Regions from separate parts of the Homo sapiens genome. Here region 2 is linked to region 1. Evidence: fine-mapped expression QTL. Tissue or cell type: cerebellum. Region 1 holds a variant in brackets; the other region holds the start of a gene. All regions are shown on one strand. Distances are from middle to middle.

Region 1 (10,716 bases):
ACTGCCTTCTGGTCTCCACTGTTTCTGATGAGGTCAGTGGTAATTCTAATTGTTGTTCTCCTATATACGGTGTTTCAGTCTGGCTGCATTCAAGATTTTCTCTTCATCATAGTTTGACTATGATATGCCTGGATGTATTCTTTGTATTAGTTTTTCTTTCTTTCTTTTTTTAAATTGGAGACAGAGTCTCACTCTGTCATCCAGGCTGGAGTGTGGTGGCACAATCTTGGCTCACTGCAACCTCCGCCTCCTGGGTTCAAGAGATTCTCCTGCTCAGCCTCCTGAGTAGCTGGGAATACAGGCGTGCGCCACCATGCCCAGCTAATTTTTGTATTTTTAGTAAAGATGGGATTTCACCATGTTGGCCAGGCTGGTCTTGAACTTCTGACCTCAGGTGATTTGCCTGCCTCAGCCTCCCAAAGTACTGGGATTACAGGTGTGAGCCACCAGGCCCAGCCTGTATTAGTTTTTCTTGATGTTCTATGACCTTGAATCTGTAATTGTATGTCTTTCACCATATTTGGAACTCTAATTATGTTTATGTTTTATTTTTCCACAAATCTCTGACACTTTATTTTATTTATGTATTTTTTTTTTTTTTTTTGAGACAGGGTCTTGCTCTGTTACCCAGGCTGGAGTACAGTGGTGCAATCATGGCTCACTGCAGCCTCGACCTCCCAGGCTCAAGTCATCCTCACACCTCAGCCTCCTGAGTAGCTGGGACTACAGGTACATGCTACCATGCCTGGCTAATTTTAACATTTTCTTTTTTTGGTAGAGACAGGATCTCTCTATGTTGCCCAGGCTGGTCTCAAGTTCCTGGGCTCAAACCATCCTCCTACCTGAGCCTCCCAAAGTGCTAGGATTATAGGCATGAGCCATTGTACCTGGCCACACTTTATTTTTAAAATTCATTTTTTTCTGTTCTTAGATTGGATAATTTATATTGATGTATTTTTGCATTTACTAACTCTTTTCTCAGCCATGTCCATTCTGCTGTTAAGCCTAGCCATTGAGTTTGTTATTTTAGACACTGTATTTTTCAGTTCTGGAATTACCATTTGGCTTTTAAAAAATAGTTTCTATTACTCTGCAGAAATGTACTGTCTTTTCAATCTTTTTCTTCTTTTTCTTTTTCTTTTGAGATGGAGTCTCATTCTCAAATGAGACTCCAGCACTGGCTGGAGTGCAGTGGTACAATCTCGGCTCACTGCAATCTCCACCTCCCAGATTCAAGTGATTCTCCTGCCTCAGCCTCCTGTGTAGCTGGGATTAAAAGCACCTGCCACAACACCCGGCTAATTTTTGTATTTTTAGTAGACAGGGTTTCATCATGTTGACCAGGCTGGTCTTGAACTCCTGACCTCAAGTGATCCACCTGCCTCAGCCTCCCAAAGTGCTGGGATTACAGCAATCTTTATTATCATATTTTTAATTATATTATTGAGCACAGTTATACTAGCTGCTTTAAAATCCTTGAAGCTTAATTCCAGCATCAGGGTTGTCTAGGGATGAATCTCCATTGATCATCTTTTCTCTTAAGAATAAATCATGTTTCCCTCTGTATTTCAAGTAATTTTGGATAATATCCTAGCCATTGTGAGTGATCCATTGTAGAAACTGTGTTTCTCTGAAAAGTGTTGGTTTTGTTTTTGGTTTTGTTTTTTAAAGCAAGCAGTTAACCTGACCAAACCAAAACTATAATCTGTCTACCTAGAGATGGGCACAACTATTTTCAGTTCTTTTGGCCTCAACCAGGAGGTTTGGAGTCTGTCCTATGTATACATGATTCAAGATTTGCCAGATATCTGGGAAAAGATTATAGATAGATTTTAGGGCTCTGTCTCTCTGGCTCTTTCCTTTCTGGAACTTTCCCTTTTGTATTTCATTCAGTAGCTGTGCTTTTCCCAAACCCTGTCTTTGGGCTCTTCAAACCAGCAAGCCTGTGGGTTTTCCATCAGAACTATAGCTGGGAGCAGACTGGCATTTTCTTTCAGGCTTCAAGTCATTTATAAAACAAACACAGAAAAAGCCAACACCACTTTGTTCTTTCATGTGTTAACTTTCAAGTGTTATAAGCCTACTTTTGTTCACTTTTCACCTGCCTTAAGTCTCTTTTATTTAGTGTTTTGCCCAGAGTTTATAATTATTATCTGTGGGAGATTTTTTAGTAGGAAGCACTTGAACATCTTAGAAAAATCCTTAAAGCCCTTGGTGAAGAAAAGAAAGGGAAAAATGAACAAAACATATGACATGATCAATCAGATTAGCATCTTCAAAGATTACTTTAGAAGCAGTGTGGAGAGGAGACCAGAACGAATGGAGATGAGTTTGGAAATCACTGCTGAAGTCTGCATGAAACATGATGATAGCTTGGAGTAGATGGTCGCAATGGGGGTGCAGCAAAGTGCTTGGATTTCAGAGACTCCTTTAGGGGGTAACACTGATAGGACTTGCTCCATGCATAGAGTATGTGAAGTGAGAAGTAAGGTGGAGAGAGAAATATCAAGGATGACTCCTAGACTTTTGACTTGCTCAACTAGATGAGTTGGGTGCCACTCCAGAGATAGTAAACCCTGGAAAAGATTCACAAATAAAAAACCGTGTGTGTGAGATGTTCCAAAATAATACATGGACGTGTGAGATAGAGGATTACTCAGATAGCTTCAAGACTTTAGACTTAAGGGACTGGAAAAATAATGGGGCCACTGACAGAAGTAAGGATAGTGAGAATATTTCATCTTTCTTTAAATATTGAGAAGACATTTTGGAATCCAGCAGTGCCTAGGGGTCATAGAAATGCCTTGGGGGCCATGACTGGGATTGCAGTAATGTGGCTAAAGAGATAATGCTGGCCTATAAAAAACTCTGAGAAAATCCCAGAGAAATCAGTTTTATATTACTACACAGATTCAGTTACACCTTGGCTAAATAATGTCCCCTGCTTATGTGGTGCCTCAGGTCACCATAAAGTGTTTAACACAGGCGTTATTCATGTTGCCCAAACCAACTTTATCATACAGGTTTTCTTAATATTAGTAACATTATCAGTTATTAATATTATACTACTAATAGTAATGTAACTATTAAGGTATAGAGTAATTGATTGTCAATTGGATCTTTCCATGGTTTCCAAAGATGTCAGGTCATAGAAATGATGACAATTGCAGGTGGGCCATTGTTTCTCCATCACAAGACAGAGGCACTAAGCAAGGTAACTAAAAGTCACTTCAGTGGTCTCATAATGTATTCAGTTGCCTTGGAAACAGGCATCATTATTATTAGCAACCTCAGTGGTTTATGTATTATTCTTTTTTCCTATGTGTGGATTAATTTTGTATTCATGTTTCCATTGTTAATATAACCAATCTCAAATCCTGTTAAAAAAAAAAAAGGCTTAAACGAATCATTGATTTCTCACAATTGTGGAGGCAGGGAAGTTCCAAATCGAGGTGCTTGCCCATTGTAGGTCCTAGTGAGGGCTCTCTTCCTGGCCTGTGGATGGCTGTCTTCCTGCTGTGGCCTCACATGGCAGAGAGAAGCTCTCCAGTGTCTCTTCTTATAAGGACATTAATTGTATGGGACCAGGATTCCACTCTTATGACCTCATTAGCCTTAATTCTTCACTCCAAATAGAGTCACACCAGGGGTTAGGACTTCAGTGTATAAATTTCGGTGGGTGGTGTGGGGGATATAATTCAGTCCTTAATAAATGTTTTTGCCATTTTTACTGTCATTCTGTCACAAGAACACAGTGGAGTTTTCCAGAGACTACATAAGGGTGTGGTAGCAGCAGGGTGAATGCAGAAGCAGGTATGAGTAGTCAGCAATCCTCCACTAGCCAGACCTTAGAGAGACTCGCCAGGATGTAACCTTTATCACCACTCCTCTCGCTACACTTTTGTTCTTGTGGAAAATAGTTATTTCTTAATTAAAAATGTTATGCTAACAATGTAGTCCATTTCTTTTTTAAAAATAATTAAAAATTTTAAATTTCCATTACGGTAAATGTGATATAAATAGCCTACATAAACAAAAGCTGCCTGGGTGCGGTGGCTCATGCCTGTAATCCCAACACTTTGGGAGGCTGGGGCCTCCCAACACTTCAGGATCACTTGAGTCCAGGCGTTTGAGACCAGCCTGGGCAACATAGTGAGACCCCATCTCTACAAAAGCAAAACAAAACAAAACTCCCAAAGTCAGCTGGGCCTGGTGGCGTGCGTCTGTGGTCCTAGTTACTCTGGAGGCTGAGGTGGGAGGATCGCTTTAGCTCAGGAGGTCGAGGCTGCAGCGACCTCTGATGGCGCCACCGCTCTCCAGCCCGGGAGAGAGCTCAACAACAACAACAACAAACAAACAAACAAAAAACCCCGCAGAAGCTCTCTGGGCTCCTCACTTGTTTAATGGAATGAAGGAGTCCCGAGAGCCACACATTTGGGAACCACCGGTCTCGGCCATGCCCAGCGCGGGCGCACTGTTGCAACACCCCTATCCCTGGCTGCGCAGGGTTCAGCTCTCCGCAAGTACCTTCCTCGCCTTCCTACCCCCCCCAGCCCCCAGCCGCCGCCGCTCCCGCAGCCCCGGTCCCGCGCCTCCCCGCAGCCCCGGCGCCCGCCTACCCGCCAGGCAGGCGGTGGTGTCGATCCACTTGAGCAGCTGCCCCGCGCTCAGCTCGCCGCGCGCAGTGGCGTGCGCCGGCTGGATGGCTTGGCTCATGACCACCTCGCCGGGCGCCGGCCGCTCCATGGCCAGGGCGAGAGCGCTA[C/A]GCCTGCGGCCCCCGACACCCCACCATGCCCGCTCCGCCCGCCCCGCCCTCCCCGCCCAGCTCCAGAGGGCACTGGCGCCGCCCGCCCGGGCCGCGAACCCCTGGCCGCCAGGTGGTGGGAGCTGCGAGTGAGGGGGCCCGCACTGTCATCCCAGGACTATCGCGAGTGGGGGAAAACCAGCGCTCTCGGGTCTCAGGAGAAGTCTGGGAAGTGCGCGGGGAGGGGGCTCCCGGGTAGACAGGTCTGGAAGGCGGCTCCCCGAGAGCCGGAGCGCGAGGAACAGCTTTTGAGATAAAAAAGCTGTTACACTTTCTAGAGCTGCTATCAGTGACTGTACAAAGCAGTCCTCATTAGGGAAACAGTGTCTCCAGAAAACCTCCAGCATCTAATGGATTGGTGGATGTCTGACTGTCAGGGGAGGCTGCTCCAGGGAGCACATTTACGATGGAGAACTGGAAACCCGGAGAAGTGGAGCAAGCAGCTGAGGTGATAGGAGCCGATAAGCGACCCGATCACCTGGCTGGAACCCAGGGCTCCTGACTGTCCGGAATAGCACGAAGAAGCCTAGCCGACTCTCACGAATTGGTGGTGCCTTTTCATCCTTATATTTTTGGCTTGCCAAGCCTCAGCATGGCGACATCAGAATGGAGATTCTGGTATTTTTCTTTCCTTTTTAAAAGATTTTTTTTAAAATGAAAGTGAAGAAATAAGGAAATGTTGACTTGATAGCTTTTAGGAGCCTCTGTGTATAGGTTTCAGGACAATCCAATCATAAATAGGAATTGCATGTTTTCACTGAGGCAAGCATGAAGTCTGACTTATATAAAAGGCATTAAAATAACTTTTAAAAGCAAACAAAAACTTGTGCATCCAAGATGGTCCCATTATGTAGCTATACACTTATTTCAATGATAACGTTATTACATCGCTTTTGGCACTCCTCCTTGGAAAATGCCTTTTTAATGACTTCTGTATTGAGAAATCATAATTTAGGAATTGATAGATTATCATATATTCACTCCATCTACCAATAACTCTGTGAGAGTCATTTATTGACCTTGGACTTGGCCATGTGGCTTGCTTAAGAATGGAATGTGGAGAGATAGCAGTGTACCACCAGTCTTGCCTTTAGAAGCACCGTGTTTCTGTTCTCAGGAACATCTGACCTCTGCCATGAGGTCAAGTAGCTGCCTATTAGCATCTGGGTACCAGACTGAATTCACGTATTGCAGAGGCATCTCAGCCAGCCGGAGGACTCACAGCCTGAAGCAGAGCAACCCAGCAGACATGAAGACTCTTGAGTGAGACATAACTACTTATTGTTGTGTGCCACTGTGATTTTGGGGGTTGTCTGTTATGCAGCAATAGCTGACAGTTACATGAGTGAACTGTATTAATATTTGGGAAGTTTATTAAATTACTGGAAATAAAGTTTGCATTTAGGCTGGGTTGTATTATTTTGGGTAAAAAGTGGTGACTAAAGTGGTGATATTGAATTATGTGTATGGTTGTATACTTGGTTTCTTATAAACTAAAGAAACTTAGGCCAGGCGCAGTGGCTCATGCCTATAATCCCAGCACTTTGGGAGGCTGAGGTTAGGTAAATTGCTTGAGCTCAGGAGTTCAAGACCAGCCTGAGCAACATGGTGAAACCCTCTCTCTACCAAAAATACAAGAATTAGTTGGGCGTGGTGGTGTGTCCCTGTGGTCCCAGCTACTCAGGAGGCTGAGGCAGGAGGATCACTTGAGCCAAAAAGGCAGAGGTTGCAGTGAGCTTGAGTCTCAAAAAAAAAAAAAAAAAAAAAGAAAAAGAAGAAGAAATTTCAAAAATGTTTACGCATAAGTGTAAGAGGATGGGTTTCCAAAATGATTTTCTTGAAGGGGACAGCATGTGTATATTTGTGTGTTTGTCTAGAGATGTTGCTTTAAAAGCAGACATGGTACACAAATTCACTGCTGTGTTTTCTTATCTTTATTATCTCCTGTTTAGATGTCTTCAGATTATGGTTTCATATCTTTTGTTGGTTTCATACTAATTTTCATTTTACTATTCTTGTGTTTTTCTGAATGGTCCCTTTCTTCCTTTTACAATGAAAATGTCATCTGCATGCATGAACATTTGTTACCTCCATTTCTCTCTGGTGTCAAAGATTTTTACTATTATGCTTGAATAAAAGGTCGAGTTTCATTTGTGTTTAGAGACATTTTTGAAGATAAGCAGAATGTGAAGCCAGCTTGATTTTAAAAGTTTGTACACAGGAGCAGGAAAGCTGATCCAAAAAAGTGTGGGAAGTTCCACAATCACTAGAATAACGAGAAAATCTTTAAAATGCTGGAGTGGGAAGGGGAACTGGACAGTCTAAACTCTTATTCTAGAGATGAGGAAATGAAGTGATTTCCTTGGGTCACATTGTAAGGTAGTGGCTGGGTTTTGTGAAAACTAAGAACAAGGAACCTGGAATATAAGTAGAGAGGTAGAAAAAAAAATGCTTTCTCCAGAAACAGAGCCTCTGACAAGAATTTGAGAGCAGACAGTTTATTTGGGAGGAAATTGCAGAAAGCACTGGTAGGGGCATCAAAGTGTAGTCCCCAGGTAAGCAGCCTCAGCCTCACCTAGGATCCTCTTAGAAATGCAGAATCTCAGGCCGGGAGTGTTGGCTCATGCTTATAATCCCAGCACTTTGGGATGCTGAGGCAGGAGGATCACTTCATCCTAGGAGTTTGAGACCAGCCTGAGTAACATAGAGAGACCTTGTCTCTATAAAAAAAAAAAAAAAATTTAAAAATTAGCCAGGAAAGGTAGCATATGCCTGTGGTCCCAGCTACTTTGGGAGGCTGAGGTGGGAGGATTGCTTGAGCCCAGGAGGTCGAGGCTGCAGTGAGCCATGATTGGGCCACTGCACTTCAGTCTGAGTGACACAGTGAGACCCTGTCTCGAAAAGAAAAGAAAAGAAAAAATTATAAATGCAGAATTTCAGGCTCCAACTCAGACCTACTGAATTAGAGTCTAAATTTTATTAAGATTCCTAGGTGATTCAGGGGCACATTACAGTTTGTGAAGAACAGCCCCAGCCATCCCTCCCACTGGCATGAACCCTGGGGTTTTTATCCTCTGACTGGCATCCTTCATTGACTAAGGGCTGGTCCCAGGAGATGAACTCCCCAGGACTTCTGCAGATTTCAGAGCAAGAGCAAGCTTTCAGCTGGAGCTTTATCTCAGTAGGACAGGAAGACGCTGTCAGCTTGGACTAGGACTCAGAATGGTGAGTGCCGTGGCCATGTGGGCAAGGCAGAGAGCCAAAATCCTTACTGTCCTGAACAGCAGAGGCAGCCGGGAGCCTTTCCATTGTGGGAGATATGTCCCAGACAGAGGGTTTGCTAGTTCAAGTACTTCATACAGAGATGAACTTGATTAGCCATCAAACTCTCTCTCTACATTTGGTATGTTTTAAAAGGTGTCAGGTCAGTGTTTCCAAATTCAAATACAAATTTATAAGGATGTGGTTCAAAGTTTAAACTCAGAGCCCCTAAGCAAAAATTCCAGGATGGGTTTTCTCAGCTTTTGGCCGCCAACTTCTTGACTGGAGGGTCTCCTGTCCTTCTCTGCCCCTGAACCCTGCTCTAGGGATGGCAGTGACTTTGGGGAATGGGTTTTCTGCTTGGACTGTCCCTCTTAGCACCTGGAGCCTCAAGATAACCTTGCTCCTGTTTGTCCCTGCACTTCCGGTGGCCCCTTCTTTCTGTCAAGCATTAGGTGTAGAACCTAACAGCCACCACATTTGTGTGGAGTACAGAGCTTTATTTTGTTTGAACAAAAGCCATGTGTATAGAATCTAATTTTTCTGCTTCCCCAGATTTGTTTGGCCCCACTTTCATCCCAGGCCATTGATTACTGCTCAGTGGAGTCCCTTTGCGGTCACCACCACTGCCTGTGAATATGTTGGAGCACATTGTTTTCAAATACTGCATCCCACTTGCTCATGGTATACAATTCTTTCTATATATTGCAGATTTCCATTTACTAATATTTTAATAAGAATTTCTATGTCTGTATTTTTGGGACATGTTGGTCTGCAGTTTTCTTTCTTTAAAACTGTCTTTGTCTGGTTTTGGTGTCAGGGTTCATAAAATGAATCGGGAAATGTTCCCCCACCATGTATTCTGAAAAAGACTGTATATATTTGGTGTTCTTTACACTTTTGGTAGAATTCTCCAGTGAAACTATCTGGGCCCTGAAGATTTTTTTTGGAAGTTTAAAATTTTTTTTTTTTTTTTTTTTTTTTGAGACGGAGTCTCACAGTGGCGCACAGGCTGGGGTGCAATGGCACGATCTCTGTTCCCTGCAACCTCTGCCTCCCAGGTTCAAGCAATTCTCCTGCCTCAGCCTCCTGAGTAGTTGGGATTACAGGTGTCCGCCACCACACCCAGCTAATTTTTTGTATTTTTAGTAGACGGGGTTTCACTATGTTGCCGGGTGGGTCTCGAATGCCTGACCTCATGATCCTCCCGCCTCAGCCTCCCAAAGTGCTGGGATTACAGGTGTGAGCCACCACACCCGGCCATTAATTCGATTTTTGAAACAGTTACAGGGGTACTCAAATTATTTCGTATGGGGTGAGCTGTGGTAGCTTGTTTTTAAAAGAATTACTCCTTTTTATCTCAGAAAAGGTGATTTGCCAAAGACTGAGATTGAGCTAGAGCCTGATCTGGTGCTTTTTCTTCCATCTGGCAGAGCCCTCCCCTCTCTGGCTGGCTCTTAAAGCTGCCCCTTCCTGCCTCCCTGGCTTTCCCCAGATCTCTCCTGCCCACACCATTTCCTGCTTTCTAAGCCAGCTTTCAGCTACTTCCCCTTAGGGGAGTGGTTCTCAAGATTTTCCAGCTCAACCCATACATACTGAATCCGAAATTCCAGGGGTGGGGCCAGTAACTTTTTTTTTTTTGACATGGAGTCTCGCTCTGTTGGCCAGGCTGAAGTGCAATGGCATAGTCTCGGCTCACTGCAACCTCCGCCACCTGGGTTCAAGCGATTCTCCTGCCTCAGCCTCCTGAGTAGCTGGGATTACAGGCACATGCCACCATGCCATTCTAATTTTTGTATTTTTAGTAGAGACGGGGTTTCATCATGTTGGTCAGGCTGGTCTCGAACTCCTGACATTGTGATCCACCCGCCTCGGCCTCCCAAAGTGCTGGGATTACAGGCGTGAGCCACCACACCCAGCCAATAACCTGTTTTTAACAATTTTTCCATGTGCTTCTGCTGCACAGTATGTTAAAAACTACTGCCGTATGGTGTCTTTCTTTAAAAGAGTAAAGCTTACAGTGCAGTCCTTCCCAAGAACATCTTCAGTTTAACAGGGGGCCTTTTCAGACCTGTAAAGGAATTTGTGATGCGGGGAAAAGGGTCACAGTCTTGGGTCTGGAGAGATGTGTTTGTGTCTGAGTTAGACCCTATCCTTGCTAGTGTTGAACTCGAATGTATCACTCAATTTACACATTAGTTTGTTTTTTTTTTTTTTTAACAAAATAGGGATGCTTTCCCTATTTCATAAAGTTGTGATTAGATCATAGAAAGTATTATCAAATGGAATCATGATAACTGCTATTTATGGAGGGTCAAGTCTCACAACAACCTTGCAAGTAATATTCTCTTTAAAGAGCTGGGAAATCAAGCCCAGATAATTCATAAGCACTTACAACATGCCACACATCCCTATGAAGTATACAAACTACTACAATTCCCATTTTATAGATGAGGAAACTGATGGAACTTGCCCAAGACCACATAACTAGGAAGTAGTAGAGTCAGGATTCAAATCTAGAAAGTCTGGCTCTTGTTCAGCTGGGCTAGGAAGTTGATGCATGTGGTGCAGAGGACACATGGGAAGTGGGAGAGATGGGAGTGGTGCCCAGTTCTAGCTCCAAAGGCCATGCTGGTGCCTCTATTTCAAGT
Region 2 (7,738 bases), 360 kb after region 1:
AAATTAAGAACAAAAATCTGGTGACATCCATTTTAATGATGACTTCAAGATTCCTACCTTCAGATGTTAGTACATTGTTGCAGAATAGTGCCATTAAAGTCCCAAGTAAACATAAAGAGAAAAACCGAGAGATTAGATCAACTCTCCCACCAAGATGAAATTAAGTTTATTCTATAAGACAGAACCTACGTCGATGTTTGTCTTAGATTCAAACAACATTAACCTAGAAATTAATGCAACGACAATTAACCCAGAACAGTCATTGTCAATTCTCCAAAAGCGGCCTCTTCACCTATATTTAAGTTCATAAGGCAAACCAGTCAAGAATTCCTGCTGCCAATTGAAATGAATGGAAGAAATATATTTAAATCAAATAGCACCATCTAGCAGAACCCTGATCTGCTCACGAGAGTAGATATTACTTGGTGTTCAGTTTGGTAGATTTGACAGCAAAGTGGCAATTATTTGTTTTCCTGGTGGGAAATCACAGAATTAGAGCTAGAAAGGACCACAGTTATGCAAGTTCCAACATCCTTGTTATTATCTGAGAAACTAAAAAAAAAAATCAAGCAGTCCTCAGGATACTGAGTGGGATTCAACTAAAGTTCACCCCTTCCTGGAAGTTCACCTAAAATCTAAAATTACTTTGATTCTCAAATTCAGTCACCCCCAAAATAAGATCATGCCTCAATACATTTCAATCACTCTGACTAATGTGAAATTCAAATATTCTGTGATCATTAAAACATCCTCCTTCAGATGTTTTTATCAGGCACATTATAACAAAATGATTAATGCACACAAATGAGACTGCATTTCAAAACTTCAATTCTAGTAACTGCCGTTTCTTAACCAGGCTATAACGCTATGTCTTTTATATACTACTTGTCACAGCAACAAGATCCTGAATGCAGCTCAGAAAATATCTCTTGCAAAAAAACAAAAAAGCCTCTCTAATTTTTGTTTTGTTTTGTTTTGCTTTGCTACATCAAGGCCTGATACCTCTAAATCCTATGGGAATTGAGTGTGTTGCTGCCAACACAAAGATTAGGAAATGTTCCCATCCCTAGGGCACACAAAACTTTCAGGGGGAGACTAACTGCCTAAACCAAGGAGGGAAACTCAGTCGCCTGCGCATTCGGTTTTTATTTACGCAGCTATTTCTGTGCGCAAGGTAACCAAAGTACCTTTGAGAGATGCTCTCAGACTTTTTCTCTGGTCTGAACCCCCTCAGAAAGACAGGGTGCGTTCAACGACAAGGATAACTCTGACCCTCAGAGTTTAAGTGGTTACTGGGAATCACTGATCTGTTGCACAGTTTAAAAAAAAAAGGGGGGGGTTCTTCCTCAGTGATCACAGTCACTATTCGTTCTCATTTTTAGTAACAACCAAATCACCGTTACAAGTACACAAGAATAGCAGCAAACCGCTTTGCTTTGCAGTGTGCCGTGACAGTGGCATCCCGGGCCGGGAGGGGCTCTGTTCTCGCCAGCCGCCTCTTGGGCTCCCACCGAAGTTAACACCTGTATCTCCCCACAACTGTAACCAAGCGGCTCCTTCCCACCTGAACGCTTCTCCCCTCCCACAAACCCCTTTTCGGACCACTGGCCCTCCCCGCCACAGCTGCCCTCCTCGGGCGCCCCCGGCGGCTCCCACAACTCCCCTCCGCGCGCCCCCGACCACCGCCCCGCCGGGCCCGCCCCTCCCGCCGCTCGGGGGCTGCCAGCCTCACAAAAAGTTCGCCAGCCGCCGCCGCGGAGTTGGGTCCGCTGCGAGAGGCAGAAACGCCAGCCTCCTCCAGCGGATCCCGCTCCTCGCCAACACACTTTAGCTCCCCGGGAACTCGGTCCCTCTCCGACTCCCAAACTTCGGCGGCGTCTCCGGCGCCCACCCGCCCCCGCCCCCGCCCCAGCCCCAGCCCCAGCCCCGCGATGCGCGGGGGACTGCGGGCGCCGCGTCCGTAGCTGGCCCAGGAAAGCCCGGACGCCCAACCCGCACACGCCCTCCGCGCCCCGCGCGCGTCTCCGCGCCCCGCGGGGCCCCGCTCGGCCGCTCCACGCCCGGCTTCCGCCCGCCGCGCGCCCGGCACCGCCGCCCTCGCCTCGCCTCGCCCCGCGCTCGCGGCCCTAAGCCCCAGCGCCCAGGCCCCCGCCGCCGCGCTCCCCGCGCTGCCCGCCCCGACCCCGGCCCCGACCCCGGCCGGCCCGCCAAACACCCACATTCCCACTGCGCGCCTTCCTCCACGCAGCTGCCCCTCCCGCCACCCCCGGCGGCTCCCCAGGTCCCCGGAGCCCCGGACCCCAGCTCTAAAGTTACTTTGGAAGGTGAACCCGCGGGTTATTTCCCTCAATCACCCAAACAAGTTTCCATCCTCGCCACCAGCACCACCGCCGCCCCTCAACACACCCGGTCCCTCCCGCCGACAGCCCCCTGCGGCCGCCCGCCCAGCGCCCGCACCTCCCGGGAAAGCGCAGCTCCCCGCACCACACGCCCCCATCGCGGCACCCCTCCCCCTGCCAGCCCACCCCCGGCGCTCCCCGGGCGGAGAGTGTCTGTGTCTCCCAGAGTGTGCGAGTGCGTGCGTGAGTGTGCGCGCGTGTGAAGGCGGAGGTGGGTGAGAAGCGGAGACACTTACTTCTCCCGGGCCTGGCTGTCGGACGGGACGGCGCTGCTGTTACTCTTGCCTTTGCCGTACATGCTTGTGCCGAGAGCAGCTCCCACTGTCACGCACCTGTCAACCCATCACAGCCTCCCCGGGAACAGCCCCGTCCCCATGGCGACCCACGCAGCCACCCCCACTATTGGCCGCCCCACGCCAAAGCTCCGCCCCCTTCGCCCAGGCAACGCGCGAGACTGACAGGCCTCCCCCTCCCTCTGGCCTTCCGAAGCGCGCGGTGGCGGCTAAGCCTCAGCGGCAGTCTCCTCCCTCCTTCCCTCCCTCCCCGACTCCCTCCCTCCCGCCTTCCCTCTCCGCTCTCCTCCCTCCACCCGCTCTCCTTCCCCCTCCCCCCTCCGAACCCGGGCGCAAGGGGGGAATTAGAAACTGCTCTAGAAGGATTTTAAACAACTGGCTGTTCTCTCCGCCGCCACCCCTCCCCCCGCGCCGCCCGCGCTCAGCTCCTCACTGGAGAGAAGGCGCCGGGAGGAGGAGAAACTGCGGCCTGGAGTCTCCGGCCGGAGCCGGCGGAGCTGGAGCCGTGGCGGCCCCAGACTTCGGGGCGCCCGCCGAGTCCACGACAGAGCCACGGCCTCAGCCGCCCTGGGGCCCCCACCAGCCCCTCTCCCGCTCCTCTCCTATGCGTGACCCCGCGCCGGTACCCACGATTGATTTTTGCGGTCCTCAGCCCTACTCCCTGGGGTGTCGCCCCCGCCCTGTTCCCAGAGGGCCGGCTGGCGAGGGACACCCGCGCGGTTCCCTCGACCTTCTGGCTGAGCGACCGACAGCGACTCGCCTTCTCTCCTGGGGAAAGGCTGCACCTCCGGCCCTCGGCGCCGCTGCGGTGGCGGCGCCCGGGGCCGCGCCCTGCGCCCCAGGGGAGCACCCGGCCTGGGGTCGGCCTCCTCTGTAAGAGGTGAGCGGACCTCCCGAGGAGGCCCGGTGACTCCTGCGGCCGCAGCGGCCCCTGCCCCAACCCCTTCTTGCACGGAGCCCCGCGGCGCCCTGGACACCCCGCCAGATCTGCCGCAGAAGAGGGCCCCAGGCTTCCCCACCCGGCCTGGTTTAACAGTTTGGGTCAGTGATGCCTATTCATCCTGACCCCTGGAGTGGAAAAGGCCAGAAAAGGTCTTGAAAGACTTCCCTGTCCTTGCCCGTTAGAATAGGCCCCAGCGCGCTCCAAGGTGTACAAAGCTGTGCCAGGGCTGAAAGGCTGCCCGAGAATGTTTCTGTATCCAAATCCCTAATCCCATTTCAGTAAACGCGCAAAAGTTTCAGAAACACACACAATCTGGTTCCCAGTAGAACTCTGCATCATTTATCTTATTGAAGTCCTTGACTGTAAAATCAGACGGGTGCAAATGGGGTTAGAAAGAAGATGGGCTTCACACGGGGAAGAAGGGGACAGATGGGGTGGGACAGGGCGACATCTGGAAAGGATGAATAGACAAGAAGTAGCTATGGGAGGAGAGGGAAATCGGATTCGCGTGGAGGAAGGTACCGTTCTATTCCACACACACACAGCTTTAAGCATTTAGTAGGAGGATCATAAAATGCATATGGAGATATACAGATAGATGGAAAGGAAAGAAATGGGTGTGAGCATTGACAGAAGTGATAGGAATAAAACATCAACAGATGATTAAGGAAGGGCAGTTAGCAAAAGTGAGAGGTCGAGAATCAAAAACGCGGTTGGCAACCAGACATAAAGACGGGAAAATGAAGAGGAAGGACTTTCTATACTGGTGTTAATGACAAGGAAAAAAACATGAGGAAAGTGAGGTATAAAAAGATGAGAAGACTAGAAGATACAGGATTAAATGAAGAAGCCATAGAGTGTGATAGCAAAAGATTAAAAGTAATAGAGGACAGACATTATCGTTAAAAAAAAGATATAAGAAAAAAAGCACTTTTATTAAAAGGACAAAAATTAAGCCAATAAAGGAAATGAGGGGGGAAAAGTGGGGGAAAAAAATACACTGGCTTAAGTAGATTAATTTCCAAGAGATGTAATTTGCCATTTCTGACTTAAGAATTCTTCTGTCAGTTTCTAATGACCTACAGTTATTGGGTGGTTAGGATATGGCATTCATATTCTTCTTTTTGTTTCTAATGACCTGCAATGATTGGGTGATTGAAGCGAAGCTGAGCCAGTCAGCCTCTCTTAATGAACTTTTGCTCAAAATGCTCAAATGTGTATAAGGTTGCCACAGTTTACAGACTCAACTTCAAGGTTAGCATTATGTAATTTTTTTGTTCAATTATCTACTTCCATTGGCCTTAACCCAGAAAATTTTTAGTATATCAAGGCTCCATCTCTTATAGAATACTCCCTATAAAGGTGCTGCTCAGAGAATGCTGTCAGTTCTCAGAGAGCTCTGGCAGCTTCTCAGACACCCTCCTGCCTGCCCCTGGAAAAACGAACCAAGGGTGGGCTTTGTCCTACTATCCAAAAACAAAGTAGGTATTATCCTTGCACTGGTGTTGGGACTCTCTTAACTATGGTTCTCAATCATGGCACGTTAGAATTGCCTTTATTTTCATTGTTGTTGGGTTTTGTTTGTTTGTTTATATACTAACTGGATCAGAAACCTTGGGGATGGACCCAGGTACCTGCATTTTTTTCATAAGCTCCACGTGGTTCTTGTGTATAACCAGGGCTGCCTGCCTTTGCTCTTCAGTATCCATTTAAAGACAGCCAATGGGTACCATAAGAGATTAGTACAAGACTTTTAGGTTGGGCTGTCCATTAACAAATGACCCTACTCAAAGCATTAAGATGTCTTTACAGTGTACTTTACTTTCTGCCACCAAGCCAACAAACTTGTTAATAGGACAAAAATGTATGCCCATATGTGTTCTCATAGTACAAGATCATGAATAGCCATGGTTTAATTTGCTATTTCCTATAGAGAAAGGAAAATGAAGAAAGAGAACAGGAGAAACTGTTTGCTGTCTACTGCTATAATTTATTCATTTGATTGGTTTTTACCCAGATTTGTTACATTTGGAAGTCCTATGGGTAATGGCATATTTTCTGATGTTTAAAAAATAAATAAATTATAGATCTGCACAGTGGGGTATGGAATTTAGAACAATTTGGTCTTAGTCTTTGGAAAGAATAAAATGCTAAAAGGTCTTAGTTCAGAACTTGCGAAGTTAATGTCAGAGTTACCTTTATAAGAATGTTCTCATCTGACAAATATACAAAGTGAAAACATGACTTTTATATGTATATGTATCCTGTATATAGTAACCTTAAAGCTTAAGTAATCAAATCAATTATCATTAAAACAGCTCAGCAGCTACCTGAACCATCTCTGTTTTATTTTCCTCTAAATGTTTTCACATGTAAATAAAATGCTTCTTTGCCCTTGTTCAAATTATGTTGAGTACAAAGAGTGTTCTTTGCATCAGCAACTGTATCTCCTGGGACCAATATTGTAATTAATGAGATTTGAAACACATATTCAGAGCCAAATTTGAGATCCCAGACACAAAAATGAAGATCCATTGTTTTGTTTTCATTTTTTAAAAAGGGAAAAGATTGGAGATTTAAAGCTTCCTAGTGTAGAGAATCACAATGTATTTTTAGAGTTTTTTTTTTAACCCACATATGAGATTGATGAATTTGGGGAGCCTGGATTTGGCATAGGGGAACCCTGACCAGCAATGTCACCAGAATGGAACATTTGGAATTGAGGTTGATTTTTTAAAAAAACTTTACTCTTTCAGATATAGAACATCACAATAACTCAATCATTAGGTCTCCCTCATCTGTACCCCCATTTCGTTTGGACACGTGTGCACAATTTTCTCTTTCTGGAACCTACATCTAATTCTTGGAAGTCTTTATCACTTTAAAACAGGCAGTTCATTATGCCACCCTGCTCAAGCTCTAGATTGACTATACATTTCTTTGATCCTAACTTTTTTTTCTGTAGAACATTAAGGTTAATAATGTCTACATTCTTACAGTGCATGAGACCTCAGAAAAGATTTACCTGTTATATACAACAAAGAGACCACCTCTTTATGTTTAAATGGAAGCTAATCATGAATTTAATTATGTGCATCATACAGAACATTTAGCTTATTAACTTAAAACCACTTAGAAATAAAAATATTTAGAAAAATAAACTAAACATTAAAATAAATTTTCTTGTTTTAGAGTAATATTCCCCAAAAATAAAACTGTTCTATTATTTATTTGTTTCATAAAACTAATCAGTTTATACAAATAACTCAGTTGCATTCATACCACTTTTCATTTCAAATCGTTTAACAGATATTCATTCATTATTACTCAATACATCCCAGTTAATTAGATTTCCCTAACCAGCTTTTTAAACTGGGTGAACTGAGTTCTAGATATATTCGTTAGCATTAGCTGATCCAAAAAGAAAACAGAACTAGTTCCAGAAGAAGAACTCCATGTTCCTGGCTGGCAGTCCTTTTCCCAGACCACGAAGCCACACCTCTTTCTCTCAGAAGTGACTATTCCACCAAGGAATGTGAGCAAGCTCTGAGATGTTTGTCATTCAGATTACCTTGTGAAACTTCACTCCCAGGCAGAAGAGACCAGCATGCTCAGATTCACAAAATGCTCAAATGCCATGTACCAAAGTAATGAAATGAATAGTCATTGCAACTATGCTACTGTGCAATTTAGTCACTTACACCAGAATAATAAATGAAATTGGGCCTCAAATTAACATTTTTTGACACACTATTATTGGTTTAACATCAGCTAATCTGAGGCAATGACTGTTTCCATAACCTATTGCCCTGGATTTTTTAAATCCCAATTTACATATTCATAAACACTTACCAATATGTTAGGAGACATGGTGTGCAGATCTGCCAGTTCCAAAGAGTTCCAGCCCTAGAGGGTCTAGTCTTTTTTAGCACTACCAAGAATGTAAAGTTTAGTGACTTGGAATAAAATAAAATTATCCTTATACAAAGAATTATATATAAGCTGAAGATGAAAAATGAAAAACCAGGGCTACCATGTATGGCAATTTCATATACTGTATGTAGCATTTTGCAAAACAAATTCCAAGTGTTGTCATGTTCACT

Alleles and levels. Alleles are on the strand shown, and positions count from the first base shown. SD is a standard deviation of normalised expression in the study named.
As copies of C replace A in region 1, the expression in cerebellum of the gene that starts at base 2,752 in region 2 goes up (small effect, 0.32 SD a copy in GTEx).

Evidence for each region. PIP is the estimated chance that this variant, and not a neighbour inherited with it, causes the effect.
Region 2: it holds the start of SSBP2, and the variant in region 1 is fine-mapped to the expression of SSBP2 in cerebellum (GTEx, PIP 0.97).

Annotation. Positions count from the first base shown.
Region 1 is chr5:81,389,369-81,400,084 of GRCh38, forward strand. ACOT12 (acyl-CoA thioesterase 12) reads right to left here and starts at 4,766. Exons shown (of 15, transcript NM_130767.3): 1 at 4,620-4,766. The coding sequence starts at 4,746. The variant C/A (reference allele first, on the strand shown) is at 4,766.
Region 2 is chr5:81,748,346-81,756,083 of GRCh38, forward strand. It overlaps SSBP2 (single stranded DNA binding protein 2), which reads right to left and starts at 2,752. Exons shown (of 17, transcript NM_001256732.3): 1 at 2,636-2,752. The coding sequence starts at 2,697. RefSeq lists silencers at 1,614-1,773, 1,994-2,043, 2,484-2,533, 2,704-3,033, 3,304-3,653 and a cis regulatory region at 6,461-6,546.